4 separate regions of the Homo sapiens genome follow, and all the other regions are linked to region 1. The links come from fine-mapping of genetic effects on gene expression. A gene starts in region 1. Each other region holds a variant in brackets. All regions are shown on one strand. Distances are between the middles of the regions.

Region 1 (5,204 bases):
GCTGGGTAATATTGCTGCCATGGAAGCTCCAAGGATATACTTAGGGAAATACAGTAATTACAACAAAGCCATTAAACATCTTTCTAGTTTGTCACTTGGGTGAAACCTTGAATTCAATTCTTGGCATCAGGGTTTGAGAGAGATGTTGGCAAAGTAAATCTCCTCCTGAGAGCTTTCCTAATGGATGAAGAAAAGCTGATGGAGTTAATATGTACCCAGGTAAATTGAAGTATTCTCCTGTGGAATCAAGGCTAGGTGTATCCTGTAGATTCCAGAGAGCAGAATAGCAGATCTGTTGAGACTTACTGTAATGGGGTGGGCGGGGGCGGGGGGACGGGGGGGGCTTTGCACAAAGTGAATGTCATCCAGAGGCCAATTCGCAGGTCACTCAAAAGCAAAATTGTGGGGGGTGTGAGGGTAAAGGGGAGCAAATGACAGTCAGTACTACCTCCTTTGAAGAATTCTCAATCCTGGTTGTACATTGTGATCATCTAGGAAGAGATTTTAAAATGCAGATGCTGATGCTTAGACCCTAACCTCAGAGATTCTGATTTGTTGTTCTTGCGTGGGGGTCCCCATTGGAAAGAATTTATTATAGCTCCCCTGCTGATTCTAAAGTTCTAGGTTGGAGAATCACTGAACTAGACTACTACTTGCTGAGAGGTTACGTAAATTAAACCAGATGTTTTTTCTAAAGTCTCTTTCAAATTTGAGAAGATAAATGGAAATTAACACTTACGGATTACATAATACAGCTAGACACTTTCACAATTTATTCTAATAATTGAATTAGTATATGTAAATCTCTTAGCACAGTGACCGTCTGATATGGTGTAGTAAACTCTCAATAAACATTAGCTATTTTTATTATATCCTCTCCATAACTGTTCAAACAAGGTATTATATTGTTACACTATAGATGAGGAAACTGAGGTTCTGATGTTAGTTTTCCAAGGCCCACAGTAGTAAAAGCAAAGTTTGGATTTGAACCAAAGATTAGTTCCAGTTTCCAGAGCCCTCTTCTCTCCTCGACAGGCCTTCCCTAAAGCATCAAGAAGTTTATGCAAATTAGTGGTTCACCTGAGTGAACATTTAAAAAATTTAATAGTACCACTTCCTCTTGACCTGTTTGTAAGGAGTTCCTCTTAAATGCAATTTCTGAAAAAGAGAAGCATAAACTGAGACATCCACATTTTTTCCTTATTTGGCCAAATAGAAGTGAGAACCTCTGAGGATAGAGGAATTGGATGGAGGTGCCCTTCAGAACTCATGGAGAAAAGCACTGCTCCCAGTAAAATATCTCTCATTCTAATGAATGGGTAAGTATCCTACAAATCTTTCACTTCTGTACAATCTAGGTCTGGTAGGTTACTTGCACACACTGGGTGGAGGTGGAAGGGGCAAAGTATTCCTGAGGTGATGGCCCTGATCCTACCTCACATCTCCTTGGGGCCTGGTTGGACCTGGCTGAGCGTGTTTGAGCAGTGGCTGATTTTTGGAAAACAGGAGGACTCTTCTCCAGGAGGCTGTGACTACCAAGGTTGCAAATGCTCCACCTGAACTTGGGTGCATGAGGGATCTCTCTCTCTCACACACACACACCCCCCCACCGCGTAAGATAAATTTCTGTTTGTGAGCTGCCTACATTAAATGCTTTGCTCCTGACCTTCTGTGATTAAAATCTGTTCCGTTTGCAGGGTTCGGTGCGCTTGGATTTAGTGTATTTTGTTGGTACAGTAAAAAAGAGAACTGCTTCTCTATAGGTGACCCCCGCCCCAAAGTCCCCCCTCCCACTAACTTCTCTTTGAGAAGAGAGTAAAACCGAATTCGAGAGAAAAGAGGCAGTAACTATTCGGGAGGAGGCAGACTGGAGTGGGCACCAGTCCCGGTAGTAAGAGTCTTAACGTCTTCCTCGCTTTCCTCTCGCAGAGTAGTATGGAAGCATCAGCTCCTCCCCCTGGGCCTCCAAAAGTTACCTTTCCTTTGGGTGTGATTCTCGAACCCGAAGCGTTTGAGTCCTAAGAAACTAGAACAAGTTAGAGCCAAAGAGGCCTGGCGGGCGGGGGTGCGGGTGGAGTCCGGGCCGGGTGGCGTGGAAGGCCGAGCACAGCTGCGAGCGGCGAGTCCCGGGAGAGGAGGAGCGGGAGAAAGCGGGGCGGGCCTGCGGTCGGGGTTCGGCCGGGGGAGGGGGTCCCCGTTTCCCTCTCCTCATCCTCGTCTCCTCTGGCTCTGGTGACGTTGCGGTTTCCTCCCCCCTCCAGCGGAGCCTCAGCGCCCGCCGCGTCCCTCCCTCCGCCCCTTTCGCCCACACCTACCCGCCCCCGCCGGCCCGGCTCTCAGTAGCGTCGCCCGAGGCTGCAGCAGCGCATCCCGGGGCATGGCGCGGCGGGGGCGCGGAGGGCTCGGTTCGGAGGGGGCCGGGAGCCCGGGCGCCCTGGAGTGAGGAGGACCGGGAGCTGGCTCTGGAGGCTGCGGAGGCGACGCCGGAGAGAACGAAGCCTCGGCTGGGAGCGGTAAGTGGAGGGGCGCGCAAGGGACGAGCTGGGGCGCGCGGCGCAACTTTCTTCGGGAGTTTCGGGCGGGTAGCCTTCGGGGCTGTCCCGGCGCGGGCGGGAGACGGAGAGCCACGTCCCCGGCTGAGAGCGGAGCGCCGCGGGTTGCGCGCCCGGGCCCGGCTCGGCTGGACTCCGAGAGAGCGCCTGACGCGTGAAGCCTGAGCCACGGGCTTCCCCGGCGGCGGAGCAGCCTCGAGGGGCAGCTTTTCGATCCTCCCCACCCCCTTGAACGCCGAGCACCGAGCCGGGAACACGATGAGAACCTGGAGATCGCATTCCGTGCGTCGGATCTGGCCGGCCCAGCCGCGATTTCCTCGACGGTCCTTGGGGCCTCGGCTTCACTCTGCGGGGTTGGGTGGCACACCCTCGCGTCCTCCTTTCCCTCCGTACCCCAGCCATTTGGGGGCAGGGGAGGTGGCGGCGGCTTGTGTGCAGATCCTGGCGCTGGCAACCCTACTTTGCGGCTGCAGAAGCCGAGGAAGAGCTCCCCAAGCCTCTCCCAGACGCTGGATTCCAGCGCTCCTGGGCTCCGCCGGCACTCGGAGAAATTGTTAGTAAACCTCATCCCCGAGGCAGTCCCGGGGAGGGGAGGAGGCGGGGGCTTGACTCACAGACTGGGAAGCTCTGAAAGCGATGCCACATGGGCTCAAGATCTGTCGGGGCTGGAATCTGAGCTAAGTTTGTGACCTGAGAACTTTTTCGTTTATATCGCTCCTTTAAAGCAGCAGCCTCCTCTTAAGCCGGCTGGCATTCAGATGGAAACCGAAGCCTTTGGTTAAAATCAGGAGGTGAACCTCACTTACCTGAAATTCTTTAGGTCAGGCAATGACGCTTTTAGTTCTAGGAATCTTCGTGTAATAAAGTTCTTTTTAAAAATTTTTTCGTTGGTCATGGTTTAGAAAGTCATGGTTTAGCACTGTTAATTAAATGCATGAAAGATCTCACTTATACATATTTTTAGTATTTTTCACATTATAGAATTTAAACTTTAAGTAATTCCCTCAAGTTTTTAAAAAATTTCTCGGCCGGACGCAGTGGCTCACGCCTGTAATCCCAGTACTTTGGGAGGCCGAGGCAGGCGGATCACGAGGTCAGGAGATCGAGACCATCCTGGCTAACACGGTGAAACCCCGTCTCTACTAAAAATACAAAAAATTAGCCGGGCGTGGTGGCGGGCGCCTGTAGTCCCAGCTACTCGGGAGGCTGAGGCAGGAGAATGGCGTGAACCCAGGAGGCGGAGCTTGCAGTGAGCCGAGATTGCGCCACTGCTCTCCAGCCTGGGCGACAGGCTCAAAACAAAACAAAACAAAATTCTCAATGATAATCTCTATGTGAAATAGTGATAAACAATATTGTATAGAGTATTCTAACTATATTACTAAATGGGATCACAAAAAACCTAATGTGCATGGAAGAAAATAAAATATAGGATTATCTGAGTATTTGTTTCATGCAAATACTTAGATTTCTGTATTGTGACCTCTTCCTTTGACGGTCACGATACAGATATAAGTTCTTTTCTGAAGTATGTAGGTAAGGTCTGTTCTAGTAAAAATGGAGAAGATAACAGATTGAATTTGATGTCTCCATCACCTAGTGACCCGTCTGTGTGGGTTCAGCAAAAAGTGCAAGATAGTGCTGGTTACCTAGGTTACATACACAGGTATATGAGATCAGCCTTAGCTCTCTTGGAGCTGCTAATGTAGAACCTGAGAAACATCAATAAGCAGCACTTCCTAAGTTTGAGCTTGGGAAGAGTTATTTTTCATTGACTAGTATATGACGTCAGTATCCGTTTTTATGAAGTTTTAGTTAAATAAAAACACTGGCCTAAAAAGTACATTCTGACAGTTTAAAAAATACTGAAAGTACAGTCACCAAGTGAAGGGGAATTAAAAAAAAAAAAAAGGGCTGGGTGCGGTGGCTCACGCCTGTAATCCCAGCACTTTGGTAGGCCGAGGCAGGTGGATCACCAGGTCAAGAGTTCGAGACCAGCCTGGCCAATATGGTGAAACCCGGTCTCTACTAAAAATACAAAACAAAAAATAAATTAGCTGGGCGTGGTGTCGCGCGCCTGTAGTCCCAGCTACTTGGGAGGCTGCGGCAGAAGAATCTTTTGAACCCAGGAAGCGGAGGTTGCAGTGAGCCGAGATTGTGCCACTGCACTCCAGCCTGAGCGACAGAAGAAGACTCCATCTGAAAAGAAACTTTGACCAAGAGATACTTTGATAACAGTACAGGCAGTTGCCATGATGGGGTTATTAGGTTCCATTCTCAATACTGCTAGATTGAGGCTGTCCTTCCTGATCTTGGGGACCTGTTGAAAAAGCACTGGGTGAGACATCAACTAGGTTTGCTATGTGAGATCAGGACCATCTTAGTGACTAATGTTTGTGTGTACATCTGCTTTAGTATTTACGAAATTCGTTCAGAAACAAGCTAATACAGTTCCTTTCAATGAGATTTTATGGGCTGTCCGGTTCAATATCTCGCAGTGCTGCCCTGAGAGGACCTGGTGGTCATCCATGAGATGAAGCTCTTAACTTCGCAGATGCTTCCCAGTGCCTCGTTATAGTCTCTTTTTAATTTCTGAAAAGGTGCTTTAAGATCACTGATGAAAGTGCATTTTGCGATTAAACAATAAAATAT
Region 2 (5,204 bases), 82 kb after region 1:
ATAAGCTACCTACTGTTTTCCACAGGGTTGGCAATTCAAGATTCCTTACGTTATTCTGAGCTGTGTGATGTGCTCAGACCGGCATGGCCTGTGCAGAAGGGCTCACATTCTAAGCTGAATAAAATAGGAATGGTGCTGGCTCTGCAGTAGGAGAAGAGAAAATCTAAGCCTGCTTCTCATTCATTCATTCATCGATTCACTCACTGTTCCCACAAATATGTACTGAACACCTACAAAGTCCTAGGCACTATGCCAAGACCTGTGTAACTGAAAGAGGATTAAGTCAGGTGTTATCCATGCCCTCTTGGAATGTATAATCTAGTGGAGGAGACGAACAAAAATTAACAAGCAACAAATGAAAGATAAAACTCCTACATGTAATAAGGAAAAAATGCAGCTAAGAAAGGTGAAGGGGTGGATGGGGAACTGTTTAGAAAGACTGGTCATAGAAGATGTGGTGGAGACTTCCTGTACTCGTCCATGTCAGGTTCTCTGCCTTTAAGGCATGGGAAAGAACCATACTTCCTCTTTCCATTGCAGTTCGGTGAAACCTTGTGGCTAGTTCTGAACAGATATTGGTATTTGAAGCAGGGTGCTTTATTAATTTAAAAACCCTAAAATATGTGGCATGGGCTTCGCAGTTCAGTGGTGGACAGCATAGAAATTGATAATGGAGGCTAGATAGATGACAATTCTTGTTATGTGGTGGTTGGTAAAGCCAACTTCTGTATTAACTTGGAGGAAGATTATGTAGCTAAAGAAAATAAGACTCTAAGGGAAAGGATTGGAAAATAATGTGTCTACTGTGTGTTAGCAACTACTATTTTTTTAAAGGAATATAAAATTATTTATTAACCACTGTTCACCAGTATTTACAATAAAGTAAACAATATACAGTTGAATAACATTCTGATTACTACAAAGTTGTTCTTCCTGGCTTTTGCTGAACCAGTAAAGCAAAGTGAAGATTGAGCCTACATGTAAGGAATGAGTTGGGGTAAAGAAAAAACATGCAGGTCAATAGGTTAGATTACAAAAGGTTGTTCACACATTTGTAGCAGCAGGTCCTAAACTGCCAACATCTCTAACCATCTGATCAGGTTTCTATGAGCCAAGTCTTACATATTCCATTCATCATTACCTTTTAGTCAATGTAGTAACAGGGATTTCAACATTTTGTTAGGGAATGGCACACTAGGGAAATTTTTTAATGTTCATTTAATTTAGTTTTGTTTAGCTAGTTAAAACACACTAGCATTTGTCTAGTTTCCTCATCTGGATGAGGAAAACTGCTGTGATGGCAGTGATAAAATTTTTCCTTTTAGGAATTTTGCAAATAAACCACTGCAATTATAGATGATTTAAAATTATCCAATTTAAATTGTCCTATTTAGAATTACTTATTTCACTTGAAATGCATGGCTTCAGGAAAATTTTCAATTTAACTTGAAGTGATTATCTCTTATTTTGCTCGGAATAATGGCATCTCAGAAACATGGGCTTACCTGTGATTTTTTTGTTTGTGTGAATGCTCAAAAACAAACAAACAAAAAATTCACATATGCATTTTATGGATACACACACAAAAAAAAAACATGTAAAAAATCTAGAATGGTCCTTAGGCTTATGAGAACACAAGTTTTGATTGAGTAATGACTACGGACATTTCCCCCAACATTTAGAGAAGCTGTTCTTTAATGAAGAGGAAATAATATACCATGGTATCAAATGTTCTTTTCTGATAGAGGAAGCAACTATAGAAAGCTTTTGTTTGTTCAAAGTAACCAGTGCTATGGATTCAAAAAACCCCCCAGCAACTCTTCCAACGCTACTTTCAAAATGAACATATCAAACTTGATTTTCATTAGGATGTAGTTATTTCATCACACTAGTAAATCAAAATCCAAGACCCAAATTTTATATATATTATAAATATATATAAAAAAACAATGTGAACAATTATTGAGCTTCATCTTCTGGACAAGAATGCCAAGTTAGTCTCTCTTCATAAAAAGCAATTACAATTTGAGGACACTTCATACTTGCTTCTTTTGCCAGCACCAAGTCTGCCTCATCTGAATCTTTCCATTTCATGAGAAACATCAATTCTCCACTGCTGTCTGTGGCACCAATTATTCTTTCAGGATCAAGACCTCTGGCAAATCCTCTTGGTTTGTCAGCAGCATCTGTTTTCTTCTTTGATTTGCTGTCATCAGATTCACTGTCAGATAAAGATTTTCTTTTTTACCATCTTTTTGTTTGCCAGCTTTCTGAGAGCTAAGAAATGCTTCAATCAATTCTGGACAATCTAAATTTTCTTCAGGTTCCCAAGTATTGTCAGCATCTGTAAATCCCTTCCACTTCAGGAAATATTCCACTTTCCCATTCACTACAC[G/A]TCAATCTAGTACTTTTTCCACCACAAATTCTTCAGGCTCTGCCTCTTCAACTTTTTACTTTTCCCATTCTGTTTTTTTTCCCCATTTTTCACAATGTAGTTTTATTGGAGGCCATTTTTTATAGCAGACTTGATGAGATATTATTCACCGCCTCCGAACTGCTCCGGGTCGCAGGTCTGCAGCATCTCTGGCCCTGCGCGCCTACCACTACTAGCTATTTTTTTTTTTTTGACAAGGCTTTTTTAACTCAAGAAAAGAATTGGTTGCTTTGTTAACAAATATGAGAAGGAATGGAACTATTTCAGAAAATTGGGGCCTTGCAAAATTGCAAATTCTAACAGGTTTTAAACTCCAAATACTAAGTCAGAAATTGAGAAAGCCTTGAAAGATGAAGCCCATTAAAATAACCTGTGGATAGGTAAAATTAAAAGTATGTTGTCTCTACCTATGATAATGCCTTTCAATAGATTAAGGAATTTCAGGGCAGATAAAATTAAGGTATTCAATTGGATAAATACACACGGCAAAGATCAAATTAAAGTTGTGGCTTTTCCACAGAAAATCATAGACTCATGTATATGCAGGATACCAGTAATGGCAAGAGAGAGATAAAGATAGAGAGACATGAAGAGCTAGATAGAGAGGGAGGAAGAGACAGAGGAAGGTAGGATAGATAGGAGGACCAGGGAAAGAGGGACAGAGAGACAGAGAGGGAGAGAGAGAGAGACACGGAGGATGGGGCAAGAAAGCAAAATGATAGAGTATATCTGAGAACCATGTCTTGGAAAGAATGGTGGATATTGGCAAATACTGTTTACTGGAATCAAAGAAATAAGAAGCTTACTAAATTACCACTTGGCAAAAGCCATAAAAGTTCCTACCTTGAGTATACAGAAATGTTCCTTGATTTTCAGGATTCCACTCTCTGGAGGGTCTTCTGTTATCTTCCTTTGCCATGTACTAATGGGCATATATTCGTCTTGGGGACTGTGTAATTCTCTTAGTGCGTGTCCTTCTTATGTAATGTCAGAAGACCATAGGTCTACTTGGGCTTGTGATTCCTTTGACTGTAAATCTCTCCCAAATTTTAGTAAGCTTCTTATCTCTTTGATTCCAGCAAGCTGTATTTGTCAATAGCCACAGTTCTGAGCTATATTTGTCAATAGCCACAGTTCTTTTCAATACATGATTCCATTCTTCTGCTTTCTTGAAAAGTAAATTTTCTGTTGTATACAAATGGATTGCATGAAATGTTCTTGCTTATTTTCCAATTAGTATGTCTTCCATGTCTTTTCATCCATACCAGCACATACAGATCTACCTCAATGGTATGGATCTACTTTGTATTCTATGCACCAATACTACATAACTTATTTAAATAGTACTCTACAACTTGACACTGTAGCAAGTTTCAAGTGATGCATTCTTTTTGGGAAGATCTTCCATGACAGTTTATGCTCTCCACAGAGTTCATTTAAATTTCTGAGATTTTATAATAGTGTCATCTATAATTTGAAGAACTCAAAATTTTGTTTTATTGTTATTTTTATTTTCTTCATTCTTATTCTTTAATCTTGTTATTTATTATTGTTTTCTTTGGAAATTCATATCTTTGATCATATATCATAAATTAGTAAAGGAAATTTGAGTTCAGGAGAACTGGGATTGTGACGATAAGTGCCCATTGACAACAAAGCTCCATCACACATTATCACACATTGTGCTCTGCAGCTCTCATAAGAATGCAGACTAATGACATGACCCTGCTTGGAATGTGACTGCTAGATTCTAATACAGCATTAATCTTGGCCCCAAGACCCTCCAAAGAGAGTAAAATCAAGTTAAGATTCAAATATCTTAGGTATCACGTGCAAGATGCAATGCTGGATGCCAAAATTAACAAGTTAATTTACAAAATCTGACACTCCTAATCCCAAAGGGAGTATATTTCTGAATGTTAAAATTTGTGGATATATTCCGGATGTATATTGTGGATATATAAATTTGTAGCTACATATTGTGGCTCTCTCTCTCTTTCTATGTCTGTCTCTCTGTCTCTCTCTCCAACTCTCTCTCTCACCTCTGAAATAACAATTTGATTTGATGGGTGCTATGGTCTAATGTTGGTGTCCCCACAAAAATCCTATGTTGGAACTTAGTATTCAATACAATAGTATTAAGAGGTGAGGCCTGTTGAGAGGTGATTAAATCATGAGGGCTTCACTCTTGTGAATGGGATTAGTGCCCTTATAAAAGAGGTTGAAGGGAGGTGCCTTGTCTCTTCCACCATGTGAAGACACAGGAAAGTTGCCATCTATGAGGAATAGGCTCTTAGCAGACACCAAATCTGCTAGCATCTTGATCTTGGACTTCTCAGCCTTCAGTACTGTGAGAAATAATTTTTTGTTTATAAATTACCTAGTCTAAGGTATTTTGTTATAGCAGACTGAAAGACTAAGACAATGAGAAAACATTGTTTCACCAAAACTGCTAATAGACATAGGTCGTAAAAAGCACAGAAGGAAAACTAACTAGGACCTTTAATAGCCTCAGTGTATCAGATGATATTGATGATGGCGGTGACAACAACAATGGTAGCAACGATGATGTCAACAAAGACTTGGCCATATCTAGTTTCTCTAAGTTGTTAAATCAAATTTATCCTAAAGCAGCCTCCTTACGTATCTTAAGTTCAGCCTAAAGGTTTCTCTGTAATGTAAGCAGACTGTAACCTACTGTTGTGCCAGTCAACAAGTTTTGGCCAATCAAAGGGGGTCAACTGTTCAAACTGTGTTCAAAGAAGGTAAA
Region 3 (5,000 bases), 45 kb after region 1:
TAGAATGCTTATTCTCAAAATGTATTGGGAAGCATCTTTATTTCATTAAGAAACAGTACAGGCCTGTGATTAATGATTATATGTCAGGTTTCCGGGGCTGAATGGAATAAACTGTGCAGAGCATTATTTCCTACTGCACCCAGAGTAAAATCAGCCACAGTTCATTCACTGTTTTAAAAAGGCCTCTGGATTTTATGAAGCTCTGCATAATTTCAGCAAAACCTTTAAAAATCAAATTATCAAAGAAAATTATTCATAAAACATTAAAAGCAGAAATAGTGGGTAAATATATTAACCGTACTCTAAGAGACAGCAAAATATCATTTCACGTATGCTAGCTCCTCCAGGCCTACCTCACTTTGGATTTGATGTTTTCCCACCATGAGGGCAGCAAAAATTGGTGATTTGACTACGGTTTTTCCCATTGTGAAAAAGTGTCCCTCATTATTTTGAAACTTCATTCCTCAAGTAATTCTTTGCCCTTTTGCCTGCCGTGTTCTCAGAATATTAGGCAAGTGCTCTTTCAAGTAAATGGGAGTAACTGAGTGTTCAGGCAGCGACAGGAAGATGATGGGGAGTGTACGAGGTGGCAGCAATGGCCGGTCAGGTTTTTTAGTGTCGGTGTATTTGTTGCTAGGGCTGCTGTAACAAAATACCATAGACTAGGTGGCTTAAACCAACAGAAATTTATTCTCTCTCAGTTCTGGAAGCTAGAAGTCTGAAATCAAGATATCAATAGGCTTCATTCCTTCTGGAGGCTCTCTGAAGGAGAGACCATCCTAAGCTGCTCTCCTAGCTTCTGGTGGTTGTAGGCAATCTTTGGTGTTCTTGGCTTGCAAATGCATCATCTCTCTCTCACTCTGACACAGATAAGTTATTTCATTACAATATAGATCTGTTTTATTTTATAAATATGCCATAATTTTAATGAGTGGAATATCAAGTGTTTGCTCATTTTTTTTTTTAGGTGGAGTTTCGCTCTTGTTGCCCAGGATGGAGTGCAATGGCCCGATCTCAGCTCACCGCAACCTCCACCTCCTGGGTTCAAGCGATTCTCCTGCCTCAGCCTCCCTAGTAGCTGGGATTACAGGCATGTGCCACCACGCCCAGCTAATGTTGTATTTTTAGTAGAGATGGGGTTTCTGCATGTTGGTCAGGCTGGTCTCGAACTCCCGACCTCAGGTGATCCGCCTGCCTCGGCCTCCCAAAGTGCTGGGATTACAGGTGTGAGCCACCACGCCCAGCCTGTTTGCATATTTTAACAAGGCAAAAGTTATTGACAACTGAACTATATTGTATACTGTAATGACTTTTCAATGTGTGTACAACTCTTTGTTTTCTCTTGGATTCATAATAGCTTTTTGTTTTATTTGGTAAGTTTTTTATATGGTTATCTCTAGTGACCAGCCAGACTCTCACTCTTGTGTAAGTTTTCTATCTATTCAAACAAGACATTCTTAATAAGACATTTTTTAAAAATAATTCATCTTTTTGAAGAAGTAATGCTGCATCTTTTTGACATGCTAGGATGTGGATTGCTTGCAGCCAGGTCTGCTGTACAGCCATCTTTGTTCCTTTTTCTCTTGAATTGGATTCCTTGTGCCATGTCTTCTTTTTGATATACATCCTAATTTAGGTGGAGATATTTTCCACTGGCTTCCAGAGAAAGCATTTATGAGAGGTAAATTTTGAGACCTTGGATGTCTGTATATGTTTTTTCTTCCCTCAAGTTTAAAGGGTAGCTTGGCTGGATATGAAATTATAGTCTGGAAATTGTCTCTCTGAGTTTTGGAGTCATTGTTTTATTGTATACTAGTGTCTAGTGTTGCTGTTGAGATGTCTGACCCCACTATTCCTGATGCTTTGAATGAAACCTGATATTCCACTCTGAAGCATATAGGATCTTTTTTATGTTACTAGTGTTTTGAAATTACGGGATGATGTATCTTGTTTTGAGATGAGTCTGTGTACTGTGCACTTCATGGATTCTTTCAATATGGAAACTTATCCCCTTTAGTTCTAGCAATTTTCCTTGATATATTTGGATCTCCTTTTCTTCCCCCTTTTTTCTTTTTTCTTTCTTTTTTTTTTCCTCTCTTCTTTTTCACATGTTTAACCTCTTGGGCCAGTCCTCTTTTTTTTTTTTCCTCTGCTGTTTTCTATTTTATTTTCTTACTTTTTTTGCATTTTCAAGGTTTCTTCAACTTTTCTCCCCAGCCCTTTTATTGCACTTACCTTCCTGCTATTTTGTTTTCCATTTCAAGAGCTTCTTTTGTCTTGAAATTTCTTTCTGCCTGCATGGTTTAATTTCTCCCAAGCTGCATTAATGAGTTTGTTCATTTGGGTCTCTTTTGTCCTATTATGGGATTTCCACAAATCTCTGGTAGTCCTTGACTGCCTAAAAATGCATACAAATGCTGTAACAAATTACCACATACTCAGTGGCCTAAAACAGCACAGAGTGATCTTACAGTTTTGTAGAAGTGTAACACAGGGCTAAAATCAAGGTGTTAGCAGGGCTACATTTTATTCTGGAAGCTCTAGGGCAGAATACTTTTCTTTGCCTTTTTCTAGCTTTTGGAGTTCACATATATTCCTTTGCTTGTAGCTCCCTGCCTCCACCTTCAAAGCTAGCAACCTTGCATCTCTTTGATTCTTCCTCCATGGTCACATCTCTCTCCGACTACAGCCAAGAAAGGTTCTTTGCTTTTAAGGACCCGTGTGACTAGATTGGGACCACCTGGGTAATCTAGAATAATCTCCCATCACAAGGTTTTAAATCATATCTACAAAGTCCCTTTGCCCCAGTGGAAGGTAATGTATGCACAG[T/A]TTCTTGGGGGACTGTTATTTTGCCTGTCACAGGTTCTAAACAGCTAATTGCCACTGTGTGTGTGTGTGTGTGTGTGTGTGTGTGTGTGTGTGTGTGTGTGTAGCTTTTTGACTGCACTATAAGGTTGATAGTTTGATTAAATCTTTTTCATTGGGAAATACTTGGTGTTCAGAATCTTTAGATTTTTATTCTTCATTATAGACTTCTTGTCCTCCGGAGTCATGTTATATTTAAAATAGATGGTATATTTTTGATGTTGTGTGTTATAAAATTTATATTAAATTTTTATAAGATAAATAAATGTGTCAACTACATACAGTTATTATAACTGCTCAGTTCTTGCCCAAGCCAACATTTATATATTATATTTTCTTCTCTGACAGGACTGGCCACTGTCCATCATCCTGGCTATTCTTGCATGTTTATTTTTTTTTTTCTTAAAATCATACTGACTACTGACAATTGCTAACTGGCAGTTGTCTGTATGGCTTCTCACATGATCACTGGATGCTTGCATAGACATTGACTGAGTGATAACATCAAAAAGTTGTCCAGCTGAACTTTTTGAAACATATTTTACACATACAGTTGTAAAACATGTTAGGCATTTAAAATATCAAGCTCCTTTTTAAAATGGGTAAATATCATTAAATTATAATTTTCATGAACAATATAGGCAGACCTGGTTATTCCCTCCTATTGCCTTTCCAGGTTTTAAAATTTCTCCATTATAATAGATTCTTTAAGAATTTGTCATTAGAATTTGATATGTAAGTGTATTTTTAACCGTAGTCTTTAAGCTATGCCATTCTACCAAAATAGAGGTCTTGTTCCTAAATTTGAATAATTTTTACTTATCATGTTTCTTCCTCTCACCTTTTGTAGGTTGAATATTAGGGCAAAGTATACTTACTCAGTTAAAAGGGATTACAATTATAAATGTTGTTTGATTCCATTTAAATAGATTATGTTTGGGTGGCATGCTTGGATATTTGGGTAATAACACTTCATGTCATGGAAGTAAACATTGAGATAATGACATGGAAATGCCTTTTCCCATTTAACAGTACTACTCTACATTTTATTTTAATTAACTTGGTATATTCCGACACTTCGATTCTTTTTATTTACAAATCATCTAGAATACTTTTCATTTGAGTAAAATGTGTTTCTTTTAATGTCTGCTTTGGCATAATTGACTCCTCAGTATTCTGCTTGAGTGGGGCCAAGTTGACTTAAATTTTATATATTTTAGAATTTAATATTTGGGATATTGAATTCACAGCATTAAAATGAAATTAAGTGGTAATGTACTGCTATATTAAATCCAGTGATTTAATTAATATAGAAATATAGATTGTAAGAGGAAATAGTTTTTTACATTTCAGAGCTAATAAGTTATTTTCCCTGAAAAAGTCTTAATATACAATGAGTTCCCATTCTGTCATACCGTTCATCCTTCTAGCAATTGTTTCCAGAAAGGGCAAGTAGTTTTGTTCCCAAAGTAGATATTGAAAAAGGAAAGCTCATTGTCCATTTCTGTGTACTCTAGCCCTGGCCAGTGTCAAAGGTAAACAATACCGGACACTAAAGTGGCAAGGATAAGTTTTAATCAGTAGTAAGTATTTCAGTAGGAAAAGAGTTCAGCATAAACTGAACTGAACGTCAATTTGTACAGAGGTGAATAGGCATTTTAAAGGGAGGAGGGCAAGCAGGGGCTTAGTAGAGCCAGGAAAGAGAAAAATTACAAAGGGTAGTCAATGTACATGTGATTAGGCCAGCTAATCACACATCTGCTAAGTGGCAATTATCGAGGGTAGAATTCTATCCTCCCACAGAGACTGAAAGACAGAGACCCTATCCTCAAATGTTGACAGGAACAAACAAAATTTTTCTGGAAGCCTTGAGTTTCTTAGGCAGACACTTTCAACAGGGAGAGGGTCATCTCAGGGATATGACCTTGAGGTATTGGAAACTTGTTAGTGTTTACTCTTCATGGAATGAGGTTGAGGCCTAGCCAAGAAGGCACAGAGGAGCCTGGCTAGGGTTTGATCACGAAGAGAGTGTTTGTTACTACCTTAAGGGGCCCAAGGTTCTGAAGATGCAAACCAGAACCACCATCCCCTGGACCAACTCTACCTTAGAGTAGTACATTAGGTGTGCAGGCTCA
Region 4 (5,204 bases), 65 kb after region 1:
TTTATGGTCCAGAAAGCCAATTAGTGTTCCTTGATAAATTTGTCATGCGTAATGGCAGTGGTAACTGGCTAGCTGACCAAATCAGAAGGAACCGTGTGGTGGAAGGTCCAGGAACACCATCCAAAGGGCAGCGCTGGTGCACTCTGCACACAGAATTTCTCTGGTATGACACATTGGGCTAGCTTTAAAGAGAAATGGTACCCAAGGGTACTATTCATGCTATGCACTTGTTTTTTTGCATTTAAAAAGAAAAACTAAAACACTTTTTAAATCTTTTCTCCATGCCACCTGAGTATATGAAGTTTCAATTCAACTCATATCACTGTTTTTGAAACTCTTAGAAACTTTTCTTTTTTAAAAAAAAATTTCAACTTTTAGATACAGGGGTACATGTGCAGTATACCCAGGTAGTGAGCATAGTACCTAATAGGTAGTGTTAGAAACATTTCTTTATGTTTAACATCTAATTACTGTTTTCAGTTTTTGGTTCTCATATTAGAGCTGTCCTACACTTGCACTATTTCATAAATAAGCATGTTTTGATTTTACATCATTTTTTGAAAGCATATAAAACAAAACACAAAATTTAGACTAGGTTATTCTGATAATCACACCAAAAAAAAGGTAGTAAAATATTTTGTTTTGGTAAATGGAGCATTATAATCTTCTAATAGCAAAGCTGTTACTAAATTTTCAAAAGTGTTTAAAAGTGTTTGACAGTATTTGACAGCTTCACTTTGATAATAAAAGGACCGTATAAATTTTTTTGCCTTAATCTTTTAAGCCCAGAAAGAGAAGCTTGGGTCTCCTTTTTAAAGTATTGCCAAATATGTTGTTGGCATCCAATAAGTTAAAATCAAAATTACAGGGAACTGATTAATCATTAATCCCTGATGTCTTTTCAAGCTGTTGAAATTTGCATTCAACTCCAAAACAAGCTTTCTTGTGGTTTGCTTCTCTTTATCCTTTTTTTTCAAAATACAAAAAAATTAAGGAGGAAAAAATATTAGTAAAATGGTGTCTATAGTTTAACCAACAATTTAAGATTATTTTCATAGATAAACTAAACATATTAAGATGCAACCATCCTTGAGTTCTCTCAGGAGTATGACATAATTACTTAATAGTGTAACCCATAAATAAGTTACTCATAAATATTCAATGAAGAGAGTTCTATAAAGCTAACTACAGGATTAATAGGTCAGATTAATGCTAAGTCTAACTTAAAAATCTGCCTTTATAGCAATATGCAAACTGACCAAAAACTGAGAGTAAGATGGCCAATTCAGCTTACATCTACACTTTTTAAATCACATTAATTAAGCCAACATTATACTAGACCTAAGTAGAGATATAATTTCTGATGTCTTGAAACTGAGACTCTAGAACAACAGATGAAACAGTCAATATCAAACACCAATAAGATTAACTCTAGGTGATTGATTTACTTTAGGGAAAAGTACATAGTGCTAATAATAAACATTTATCATAAATGAAAATAAGAAGTCATTTATTGTCCAAGAAGCATGGCATCATCTGCAGATTAAAACAAAACCAAACCTTTGGACCTGGCTGGTCAGTAGTAGGCACAATTATAAATCCCTCAATATAAGACAGTTTGCTGAAACTTCATCCATTTATATTCTGAGATGTGGTGTTGGTGATACATTTTATCTAATATGTGAAGTTCTCCTCTATTTCAGTTTATTTTTTCAAGGAAAAAAATCTTGAGGGAGAACTCTTTTCAATACCAAACATTCAATAATATCAGTTACTGCAGAACTATACTTTATTACAACTCAAGGCTTGTTAGAGTCCAGATTCTAACATGGCATTTCTAGAAGAGGAGCCCCTCAACCAGAAATTTGGATGAAGTGCTTAAATCCATGAGGCCCAGTAGTTTGAATGGTCACTCTGACATCATCAAGTGAAGATAGTCCATGTAGAGATTAGAGCAGAAATCATTTCGGGCCCAAACCCAAGGATCACAAATGATAAAGAAATATTCCTCTTCCAGTCACCAAGGGTTTCCCTTTGTGCATACTGGTTGTCCTTGGATATTTTTAGAATTGTCCCTAATATACTCTGCACTGCCAGTGCTCTGGGTAGCATTTGT[G/A]TGTCGCATCTTCCACATTACCATGTTATGTGTTATTTTCACTGCCATCAGAAAACCATTTAATTTTTCAAAATTAATTTCAGGTATGATGGCAGCTTGAAATCGGTTCCTCCTCCAGACTTTGGCACCCCTACACTGCATTATTTTGAAGACTGGGGTGTCGTGACTTATGGAAGTGCACTACCTGCAGAAATCAATAGATCTTTCCTTTCCTTCAAGTCTGGAAAACTGGGGGGACGTGCAATATATGACATTGTCCACAGAAACAAATACAAAGATTGGATCAAAGGATGGAGAAATTTTAATGCAGGGCATGAACATCCTGATCAAAACTCATTTACTTTTGCTCCCAATGGTGTGCCTTTCATTACTGAGGCTCTGTACGGGCCAAAGTACACCTTCTTCAACAATGTTTTGATGTTTTCCCCAGCTGTGTCAAAGAGCTGCTTTTCTCCCTGGGTGGGTCAGGTCACAGAAGACTGCTCATCAAAATGGTCTAAATACAAGCATGACCTGGCAGCTAGTTGTCAGGGGAGGGTGGTTGCAGCAGAGGAGAAAAATGGGGTGGTTTTCATCCGAGGAGAAGGTGTGGGAGCTTATAACCCCCAGCTCAACCTGAAGAATGTTCAGAGGAATCTCATCCTCCTACATCCACAGCTGCTTCTCCTTGTAGACCAAATACACCTGGGAGAGGAGAGTCCCTTGGAGACAGCAGCGAGCTTCTTCCATAATGTGGATGTTCCTTTTGAGGAGACTGTGGTAGATGGTGTCCATGGGGCTTTCATCAGGCAGAGAGATGGTCTCTATAAAATGTACTGGATGGACGATACTGGCTACAGCGAGAAAGCAACCTTTGCCTCAGTGACATATCCTCGGGGCTATCCCTACAATGGGACAAACTATGTGAATGTCACCATGCACCTCCGAAGTCCCATCACCAGGGCAGCTTACCTCTTCATAGGGCCATCTATAGATGTTCAGAGCTTCACTGTCCACGGAGACTCTCAGCAACTGGATGTGTTCATAGCCACCAGCAAACATGCCTACGCCACATACCTGTGGACAGGTGAGGCCACAGGACAGTCTGCCTTTGCACAGGTCATTGCTGATCGTCACAAAATTCTGTTTGACCGGAATTCAGCCATCAAGAGCAGCATTGTCCCTGAGGTGAAGGACTATGCTGCTATTGTGGAACAGAACTTGCAGCATTTTAAACCAGTGTTTCAGCTGCTGGAGAAGCAGATACTGTCCCGAGTCCGGAACACAGCTAGCTTTAGGAAGACTGCTGAACGCCTGCTGAGATTTTCAGATAAGAGACAGACTGAGGAGGCCATTGACAGGATTTTTGCCATATCACAGCAACAGCAGCAGCAAAGCAAGTCAAAGAAAAACCGAAGGGCAGGCAAACGCTATAAATTTGTGGATGCTGTCCCTGATATTTTTGCACAGATTGAAGTCAATGAGAAAAAGATTAGACAGAAAGCTCAGATTTTGGCACAGAAAGAACTACCCATAGATGAAGATGAAGAAATGAAAGACCTTTTAGATTTTGCAGATGTAACATACGAGAAACATAAAAATGGGGGCTTGATTAAAGGCCGGTTTGGACAGGCACGGATGGTGACAACTACACACAGCAGGGCCCCATCACTGTCTGCTTCCTATACCAGGTTGTTCCTGATTCTGAACATTGCTATTTTCTTTGTCATGTTGGCAATGCAACTGACTTATTTCCAGAGGGCCCAGAGCCTACATGGCCAAAGATGTCTTTATGCAGTTCTTCTCATAGATAGCTGTATTTTATTATGGTTGTACTCTTCTTGTTCCCAATCACAGTGTTAGCACTGAAGCTATAAATTACCTGGTCATTTTGTGATCACAAGAGTCTATGCAAAAAAAAAAATTTCTTTACCCCAGATTATCAGATTTTTTTCCCTCAGATTCATTTTAACAAATTAAGGGAAGATATTTTGACACAAGAAAGCAGGAACGTGGAGAAATTGGAGCAGGAAAAGAAATTATCAAAGCAATAGAAATAGCTTGGTGGTCCTATGGTGTTTTTGGAAGTATTTGGCATTGCTAATTGAGCAGTCCATATAGTACTACTTTTAGAAGAAACAAAAAGTCTATTTTTTAAAGTAATGTTTTTTCTTATGAGAAAAAGGTTTAGATAGAATTGGGTTTTATTAATATTAATTTAATGCTATTAGCAATTTCCATATACTATATTGTGGAAAAGACTGAAGAATACAATTCTGAGAAATATAAAAAAATTTTAATGGTATACTCATGTTGAAAGATAAATGTTGCTAAGTCCTGGTATGATGGTGTGAGCTTCCTTGGGGAAGTACTTCTTGAGTTATGTAACTAACAGGATGTTTTACTACAGATCTGGATGGCTATTCAGATAACATGGCAAAAAATGATAGCAGAAGATCATTAAAAACTTAAAATATATTTTATTAGAAAACATTTATCTATGAATGAATATTTCCTTGATGCTGGTCTCTGCACACATATGCTTGGTTACTTGCATGCATTCATTGGTTGTTCAATAAGTGAGATGATTACAGATAATACTGTATTTTCCTTATATGGAAAACCGTTATAGACCCAATAACAACTAAACCTTTCAAAAGAAAATATTTTCTATTATGAATGTTGATTTTCATACCAAAGAAGATGGAGAGTCTAAAATTTGGATATGATTCTTATGTTTTTTTAATAGAAAACCTTCTTCAAGTTTATTTTCCTAAATAAACATCATAATTGTGAATTTTCTCTAGTATTCTTCTTCTTTGTTCCATTATATTCAAAATGCATTAACATTTTCCAAAATTTTTGAAGAGAGATCTTTATTTGGACGTGTATTCATTAAATATATAAAGTAGTGTTTGAATCAAAAGAAGTATTTTCTCTGCTTATTAACCTTAATTGTTGTTTAAGCATATTTTAAATATTTAAAACAATAGCCAATTCTGATATTTAAGTAGCACCCAACTTTTAAAAGCATAAAATTTTCAATCAACTCCTCAGAAGGTAACAGCAGCATAGAATACTAGAAAAATAATCCATAGTTTCTACTTGA

Evidence for each region. PIP is the estimated chance that this variant, and not a neighbour inherited with it, causes the effect. A credible set is the group of variants that fine-mapping cannot tell apart.
Region 2: its variant is the best candidate, but not a certain one, in a credible set for the expression of DSE in whole blood (INTERVAL, PIP 0.74).
Region 3: its variant is the best candidate, but not a certain one, in a credible set for the expression of DSE in whole blood (INTERVAL, PIP 0.72).
Region 4: its variant is the best candidate, but not a certain one, in a credible set for the expression of DSE in whole blood (INTERVAL, PIP 0.84).

The regions. Positions count from the first base shown.
Region 1 is chr6:116,368,609-116,373,812 of GRCh38, forward strand. It overlaps DSE (dermatan sulfate epimerase), which reads left to right and starts at 2,339. Exons shown (of 6, transcript NM_013352.4): 1 at 2,339-2,513. It overlaps LOC100287467 (a long non-coding RNA gene), which reads right to left and starts at 3,111. Exons shown (of 1, transcript NR_148944.1): 1 at 1-3,111. RefSeq lists enhancers at 1,146-1,195, 2,710-3,210 and silencers at 2,126-2,655, 2,418-2,712.
Region 2 is chr6:116,451,055-116,456,258 of GRCh38, forward strand. It overlaps the pseudogene CBX3P9. Among named protein-coding and RNA genes, the nearest start is that of CALHM6, 7.7 kb to the right of the region's middle. The variant G/A (reference allele first, on the strand shown) is at 2,396.
Region 3 is chr6:116,413,466-116,418,465 of GRCh38, forward strand. The region is part of intron 2 of DSE (dermatan sulfate epimerase); the gene reads left to right. Among named protein-coding and RNA genes, the nearest start is that of DSE, 45 kb to the left of the region's middle. The variant T/A (reference allele first, on the strand shown) is at 2,830.
Region 4 is chr6:116,433,388-116,438,591 of GRCh38, forward strand. DSE (dermatan sulfate epimerase) reads left to right here. Exons shown (of 6, transcript NM_013352.4): 5 at 1-163; 6 at 2,200-5,204. The coding sequence ends at 3,958. Among named protein-coding and RNA genes, the nearest start is that of CALHM6, 25 kb to the right of the region's middle. The variant G/A (reference allele first, on the strand shown) is at 2,117.